Regions from separate parts of the Homo sapiens genome. Here region 2 is linked to region 1. A link means that fine-mapping ties the variant in region 1 to the expression of a gene that starts in the linked region. Tissue or cell type: whole blood. Region 1 holds a variant in brackets; the other region holds the start of a gene. All regions are shown on one strand. Distances are between the middles of the regions.

The links. PIP is the estimated chance that this variant, and not a neighbour inherited with it, causes the effect.
Region 2: STK17B starts here. The variant in region 1 is fine-mapped to the expression of STK17B in whole blood (TOPMed, PIP 0.97).

The regions. Positions count from the first base shown.
Region 1 is chr2:196,266,214-196,270,453 of GRCh38, forward strand. The region is part of intron 17 of HECW2 (HECT, C2 and WW domain containing E3 ubiquitin protein ligase 2); the gene reads right to left. Among named protein-coding and RNA genes, the nearest start is that of HECW2-AS1, 8.3 kb to the left of the region's middle. The variant T/C (reference allele first, on the strand shown) is at 2,482.
Region 2 is chr2:196,169,715-196,173,954 of GRCh38, forward strand. STK17B (serine/threonine kinase 17b) reads right to left here and starts at 1,864. Exons shown (of 8, transcript NM_004226.4): 1 at 1,619-1,864. LOC101927454 (a long non-coding RNA gene) reads left to right here and starts at 1,825. Exons shown (of 2, transcript XR_923737.2): 1 at 1,825-1,917; 2 at 2,191-3,134. RefSeq lists silencers at 1,190-1,409, 1,930-2,159.

The DNA.
Region 1 (4,240 bases):
GTGTGCTCCTGTAGTCCCAGCTACTTGGAAGGCTGAGGCAGGAGGATGGCTTGAGCCCAGGAGGTTGATGCTGCAGTCAGCTGTGATCGCGACACTACACTGCAGCCTGGGCAACAGAGTGAGACCCCCTGCCTCAAAAGAAAAAAAAAAAGGTGTCTTTAAAAATTCAATAATTATCCCTATGTAAACTGTCTGTAGGAAAATAATAGTCTCAGTCCAGATTTGCTATTATTTAAGTTTGGTACAGCAAAGATCAGAAGTTTGCCATGTTGGTCCAGACATCTGAGTGATAAGTAAACAAATCAGGAGAGGACTAAGGGAGAGAGCTAGGCAGGTCTTAACAGGAAAATGCATATGGATCATCAGAAGTAAATTCATGCTATTTTCACCAAGTACTTCAGTTGTTAACCAAGACTAACATTTCCAGTCTAATATTATATGCAGAAAAATTCATTTGCCACAAAGCTAGAAAAGAAATAGGTTAGCAATTTTGAACACTAGGGTTTATCTTAAGAAAGATAGCTTTTGAAACTTTAACTTTTTATTAACTAAAATTCTGTATTGTTTGATAAACTTCAAAATGGGCCATTATTTTTAAAATAAAAAAATTAAGAGTAAAATTAAACTCTAACAAAACCCCAGGGCTCTTCAAATAGGATAATGAAAGGAAATAGAAGGTTCAAGTCTGCATTTGCCTCTAGTCTGGTGAATCCTGAGACACATATCCATTTGCCTTTTGTGGTTCAGAATTTCTTGACTCCCAAGTTACTGATTTCCTGATAACATAAAATATGGAATGATCTAATCTACCCAGAATGAAAAAATTATCACAGATCATGTCCTCATGGTGAGGGGAGTTATATAGGAAGCACTCAAGGAGGAAACAGCCTGCTGCCAAAAATAATCACTGGTGCCTGGGGAGAGCTGGACTAGTAGGGAACAGATTTACTGGCTGGACTTAATAATCATATTAGAGGGGAAATTCTCAACTCTTAACTCAGGTTCATGGCCTTTCTCATTACATAGTGCTATACAAACACCAATACTAAAAATTTTATTGAATTTTTAAATGTGCATTACATTCACCTATAAAATACTGTTAAAGGTTGTTTTCTAATGAATATATTTGTATTCGTATAAAATGTTAGAACTTTTTTTCAGCTTTTATTTTAGTGTCATAGCATACAAACATCTTCTTTCAGTGAGAACCAGTAGTAGCATATAATAATGCCATGGGGACACTACCCATTTTACAGATGTGGTACTGACGTTTGGAAGCTGATTTTTCTAACAGGGGAAATAAACATCTCCTGAGGTTTGTTTAAAAAAAAAAAGGACAGCAACTTAGTACCATTCACATTTGCGTGATAAATGAATTTATAGGGAGCAGTGATTTAAATACAGCAGTTGAAAGTAAAAGCCATATCACAATGCATGGAAAACCATAGCCACATAGACAGGAAGACACACCAGTGAAGTCTCAGGGAAGAGAAAACTATACATAGATGCAAACTAAATGAATTGCCTGCTATCCTCTGGCTTAGGATGAATCACAAGCAAACCAAGAAAACACAAAGTAAAGAGGTATACCTACTTCAATCTCTCAAGGGCTACCACTTTTATCATTATATTATGGGAAAAATAAGAAGGAATATTTATCTTAAGTGGTGTGCCACAGATGAGAAAGGACATATGCCAAGCTATGTTGGTACTGGGAGTCCTTGCTCCAGGTATGAATATAAGGTCCACAGTGAACTTTGACACATAGATTACTGAGTGGCTCCATTCCATGTATAAATCTGTTATCAAAAATATCATTGAAATAGGAAATTAAAGAAGTTCAGCCTATTTCCCACCCCTGTGTTTGTGGGAATGCTCCTCACAACTATATAAAACAGAATGTTCTCTTAGATATACAAACTTCCCCTTTACGATGTTATGATAAGCAAAATATTTAACTCCCAAAAACTTGACAGAAAATGAAAGTGCAGTGTGACACACACTCTGGATAGGAGGAGTGGTATTATCTCATTGATTTACTTTTACTTATCATGACAGCATCTGCTTCCCATGGTCACATTCTGTAAAGATGGAAATATATTTCATAGCCTATCAAATAATTGCATAAAAATAGATTACCATGTGAATCCTATGTTAGAAGAAAGATTATGCTTAACTGAGGACTCTAGATGCCACTAAAAAAAAATCTTCAACATCTTTAGGAGATTAGAGACTTTTCAGACTCTAAAAAGCAGAAAGAAAACAAAACAAAACTTGAAGCTACCAACTTGGGCCTGCAGCTTTTCCCTCTGTTAGGATCTGTTAAGATTCTGTCAAGTCATTAAAGACTAATGACAAATGCCCTGTCCAGGTAGATTAGATCACCTAATCTCTCTGATGGTGGAGATTTAAAGATATGTTAATTCGTATTACACACTAATGTGGAACGCAGAGAAAAAGTGAAAAACTTCTTGAGTTTCC[T/C]GTTTTGTGGGGGATGGGGTACACTTAGAGGAACAGATATTAACTAGTGGCATGTGTTGGTTGGAAGTGGTAGAAGAGAGAGAAAATAGAGTTCCCTTTATTTTGTGATTAGCAAAAGAGGAAGAATTTTGTTTGTTTTGCTTTGAGGTCTAGGATTGCTAACATTTCTAATTAGATCACTGAGGGGCTTGTTTCTGCAATTTTTTAGAACTAAAACTTCTTACACAAGATTCTCTAGGGGAACGTGGATTACTGAGTGGATGCCATAATAAACAAACATGCAAAATCTTCACTTGCATAATTATTATAATTTTTCCGTGGTTAAGAACAGCATGCTTATGTTGGGGAAGGCACTAAGAGTTGAGTCAAATGTTATTAACCATGTGAAACCAGGTGAAACTGGGATTTTTATATACACAGTGTTTATAGTATAATACTTGAAATTTTTTGTAGCTTTAGCCTTTACAAACTTTAGAAGGTAATGACAACTTTAAAGACATGAGACCAAGGTCAGGCACAGTGACTCATGCCTGTAATCCCAGCACTTCGGGAGGCCGAGGCGGGAGGATCACCTGAGGTCAGGCATTCAATACCAGCCTGACTAACATGGTGAAATCCCGTCTCTACTAAAAATACAAAAATTAGCTGGGTGTTGCGGTGGGCACCTGTCATCCCAGCTACTCGGGAGGCTGAAGCAGGAGAATCGCTTGAACCCGGAAGGCAGAGGTTGCAGTGAACCGAGATCGCACCACTGCACTCCAGCCTGGGCGACAAGAGTGGGACTCCGTCTCCCCCTACCTCCAAAAAAAAAAAAAAAAAAAAAAAAAGACATGAGACCAAGAATATCGTGAGTATATTTGGTAATTTATTTTCAAATCGACAACTATATACATATATATTTTTACATTCAGTATGTGCAAAATGCTATTCTAGATATTTGAACAGTAAGGAGGAAAAATAATGATGAGTTGGATAAGATCCCTATTTGCAAGGCTCTTAAAATCTAATTGGAAAATAACGCATAAGGACTTGAAAAGTCAAATCAAAACACAAAAGTCATAAAGTCAAACCAGTACAAAGGACAATGTGATACATTTCATGACTCATGATCAAAATAGTGTCAAGACCAAAGGTTATTGCAGCCAACTGTGCCATCAGAATTATACAGAGAGGTTTTGAAAAAATAATTCTTAGGCTCTACCCCAGACCTCTTGAATTAAATTTCTGGGTAGGGCATGGGAGAACAGGGGTATAAATTCTGAGAAGGGAGAGGAATTGGAGGAGGCATGACCTGGCATTTTGTATTATATAAAGCTTCCCAGGTGATACTGATGAAAACAGTTTGGCACAACTTAGTGGATCAGTATTTGGGAATCACTGCTGTGGGCCAGGATGGTACCACCAGGCAAATATACTTCTACCAGTAAAGGTGACAACTGGACTTGGGGTTAAGAAAGATTTTCAGCAGAAACTCTTCTTTTCCTATTCCCACTGATGCCTAGCACACTTAGATAGAGAAATACTAGCCTAGATCATGAAAGTGAGAGTCCACAGTGGAGTTGAAAGATTTCAAGGAGGGAAAGCTTCTGCTGGGTTTTAGTGGAAAAATCTTGCTTCCCAAACTTAGAAGGAGAGAAAAGCTTGCCAGGGAAGGGGAACAGCATGTATTCAGGAAAGTAAAACTGGGCTTGAGAAATGATGTTTTGAAAAGTTGTTTAGAAGAGAGGGCTCATGCAAGGTGAGGCTCAGTTTTAGAGAA
Region 2 (4,240 bases), 96 kb before region 1:
AAAACGCATTCTATCTTAACCAAATCGTAATTCACTAATCAATGATCCCAAGAGAAACCGCAACCATTCTATTCACACACAAAAAAGGATGGTCTTCAATTACAGAAATTCTACTTTTAAAAAGTCTTGCCATGTAAGCAAATATATTTCACCTCAATTTTGGATCCCTACTTTAGAAAAAAAAAAAGATCTAAAATGTACAATATGTATCTCAAAAATAAAACATCTATTAATACCTCCAATTATTAAGATACTAGAAAAAGTTTAATTGAGCATCTGCTCAGAGGAGGAGGATCCGAGGCAGATGAGTTTAAAACTTTTGCACCGCTTCTATGGACCAGTTTTCTTAAAAAATACACAATCCTAGGGGTACACGGTCTAATATTTATAAAATAAGCACTTGTTGAAAATTACTTCCGAACAGTTCACCATAAAACTAAAAAACAGTGTTATCAATGAGAAAGTAGGTTTATTTTCCTTTAATAAAATTGTGCTCCTGGGTTCAAAATGCCAGGTTACATACGCTGCCACTCATTTCTACAGAGCTATGCTGTCTCCGCGCAGACATTCTCATAGACTTGAAAACGTAAAGTGGCCACACCACGTCAAACGTCCCTGGCAAGGTTCTGCTTATCATTAGCACCACAGATGTAAACATTACGTCGACAAAACAATCGGTGAATGTGATACACAGTCCTCATGTGTTTAAATATTAGTGAAATCTGATAAGTATTACGATTTTAAAAACGTATTTTCTTAATTCCAATTTCCAAATTGATGTCAGAGTGCCTCTAGTCCAGACAGAAACTAATGCCAGCTACCAGCTGCTATAAAGCCTCTTTCAACTTTGTCTCTACTTCTCCCTCGGAGGAAATTCAAATGAAACGCTTTTCCCTACAATAAAACAAAGAGCCTGGGTAAATGTCAAAAATCGTTGGCATCCAGTAGTGGTATAGTTTGAGGATGAGTCGTGCACACTAAGTGGGTCACAAGGCATCAAAGCAAAAATCAGATCGCTGAAAATCACGGAAACAGCTGTAGCCCGTCTTGATCTCTCGCTGGTTTTAAAACACTGTTCCCAAGCAGTAACTGAAAACGTCCCACAAGATGAACACGAACTTTCTCTAGACGAAAGGCAGCTGGGAGCAGGACGCGTCCACGAGTCCCGATGGGAACGCGCCCACGCCGCAGCTGGGACTCGGGAGAGGCTAGGGGGACCGCGTGGCCTTGCTGTGGAAGGGACCCGCGCGGGCCCGCCGCGAAGGGGGCCCTGCCTGGCGCGACCTGGGGAGAGCCGGGGCCGGCCGGGTGGAGGGCGCACGGGGACACACGGACACGCACAGACACAGACACGCGCCCCGGGCTGAGGAGGGTGGTGGGAGGACCGCCGGCCGCCCCCCGCGCGGAGCCCCAGGGAACCCGGACTCCAGCCGCAAAGCGGAGAGGCGCCAGCAGCAATCAGCCACCTCAGGGGCGGCGGAGTCCAAGCCCCTCTCAGCCGGACCGTACCGCCTAAACCCTCCTCGGGTCCTCCTTCCTCACGTATGAGGTCTCTGTACCGAGGCGGCTGGTTCCATCGCAGCCCCGAGCCAACCCGCCAATCCCGCAGGACACTAACCGCTCCGGCCGCCGCAGGTTCTCCCGGGACTGCCCCCTCCAGGGGGCCGCTGTCCCGCCCCACGCCGGGGGCCGCCACAGGACGAGTTCTCTAGCTCCAGCCGGGCGAGGCGCCAGGGAGCTCCGAACGTGGCAGGATCCACTTTTACTTTTCCAGACAAGGGCCGACGGTTGTGACCTGGCTTCTCGTGAAGTGACTCCTGGCGACAGCAGCGGAGAGGACTACCGAAGCTTGCAGTCGCGGTTTGAAAACTGCAGCCGCGTCTGGGGCATCGCCGTTCGCCAGATCCCTCCCCCTAGGTCGGGAGAGCCAATCGGAACGGGTGCGGAGGGTGGGTCTGTCACGTGACGGGAGGGGCGGGGCACCGGCCGGGGGCGCGTGTGCGGGGCGGGGCCCGGCGGTGAGAGGGTGCGGCGCCTGGCTGGCCCGAGGCGGGGCGGGGAGGCGCGGCGGCGTGGCGGCGCAGGTGGGGCGCACTCGGGCTGCCGCGAGGGAGGGGCGGAGGGGGCGGCGCTGCAGAGGGGGCGCGCGGGGCTGGAACTACTGCTCTGTGTACTCCTTCCCACCTTCAGAGAGGTCAGTTCGAGAGGTGTGAATATCCGGAGACCGGGGAGAAGGAAGCCGCAAAATTCGTCCCAGCTGCCTGCGACTAGTTACCAAACTTCAGTGCCTACCAAAGACCTATTTTCTGACTCTTCTTGAGAGTCTTCCTTAGGACCGGAACGTACCCTGTAAGTGGAGAACCCAGTTTGCTACAACTTGGCAGAGGTTCCTCGGAGTGTCAACATCAGTTGGGGATTTATGGAACCTAGACCCCACTGCTAACGTCCGCTGTCGCGAATGGTGTCCCTTCTGAGGCACTGACTGAAGGCAGTGTAGGGAGGGTCCCAATAGGCTGAATAGCCGATTTTGCATTTATAGTGCTAAGGAAAAAGATGAAAGCCCTCAGCAACCTACTCAAGATCTGTTATCCTTTGAAGACAGTGGAAATTTTCAAAGTTCTGTGCAAGACACAAATGTTTTACATAGATATATAATCCTAGTTTATATGTATAGGATACACACATACTCATACATATATGGGATTAGTTATGTAATCTAGGATTGCTTTCAGAGGACATTTACGATAATTGCAGAAAACCCTTCCGTGGGAAAGGATACTGGGAGTGGAGTCGTCCTCTTGCTTTCAAAAGACTTAATGTTCAGTTAGCATATAAAGGACAGGTTTTCTTGTTCTATCCCAGTAAGCCAAGCAAATTCCTGTGAAGCTAGCTGTTTCCCTTTCCTACTGCATTTTCCCCAAGATAAAGGTATAGAATGCATCACAGCCCTTTTATGAAGTCTGTTTGTTGTTACTTAGGTTAACTCCTCCTCCCAGGTTAATAATGTCTTGCCCCTAAACCTTGTCAAATGGAGAATATTGCTTCCATCTATCTAATTTCTTGTTGCTAACAATTGGGCTGACTAGAGAAGCCTAAAGTTAGGATGAAAATAAAATGCCACACACTGGAATTAACTTTTCTGGGGTATAAGAATCCGTAAGCAATGAGACTGTTCCCATCTTTTCTTTCATGAGCATAGGTGTTGCATTCCAGAGGTCTCAGCACCAGTACCAAAACTAGTAACCTCTTGGGGGTCACAGGATTACATCATTATGGTGGTTTTGGGGTTGTGTGTTTAACTTTGGACCTCCTTAATTTCAACATTTCATCAATTGCCAGCTTTTAGCAATCTTCTCACACTCACCCCATACTCCCCGTCACTAATCCAGTCCCAGATCACTTCACACCTAGACACAGACTTTTCTCTCTCTGGCACCACTGTAAGCCAGTCCTCTTGGTCACAATACCTCTGCTGTAACCAGCCAGCCTCCTAGGGATATTGTCATGTCTTGCATTTTCCTGCTTCTGCCTTAGCTCCAGCTTATCACCATCCTCCTCATCCATACCTGTTCATCAGTTTCTGACTTTAAGAAGGTTACCCTCTTCAGGAATCAGAACTCTGCTGATTCCTACTTTCTGTTCCCAGCCTGATCACCTCTGCCTTATGTTCTTTGGTGCAGGGCTGATAGTTTGTGTTTCTTTTATGACCCTAAATAGATTGTTAACCCTTGTGCCTGATGTCAGATTTGTTAACTAGGACTTACCACACTATCCCAAGGACATTCAACTACACTTACTTGGTCTCAGGCACTGTGGTTCAAGTAACAAGGAATTCCTGGTGCTGAGGAGGAGGCAGTACATCTGTGGCCTTGCAGGAAAATTCAGAAGTCAATACATTCCTCCATCCACCTCATTTACCTAAACTCATTCATCACCGTGTCAAAGATATATGTTCCTGCTCTCATTCCCTTGAGTAGGAAATCTCCAGGTGACCTGATGGTCATTCTGTGGTCATTGCTTCTGACCACACAGTTCATTAAGTTGACCATCCTTGAATGACACATTCCGACCAGGGATGGCGGTTGTTATGGGCTCAGTTGTGTTCTTTTCCAGTTCATACGTTGAAATTCTAACCCTCAGGAACTCAGAGTATGACCGTATGTGGAGATAGGGCCTTTAAAGAGGTAATTAAGGTAAAATGAGATAATATGAGTGGCCCCTGATCCAAGATGACTGGTGT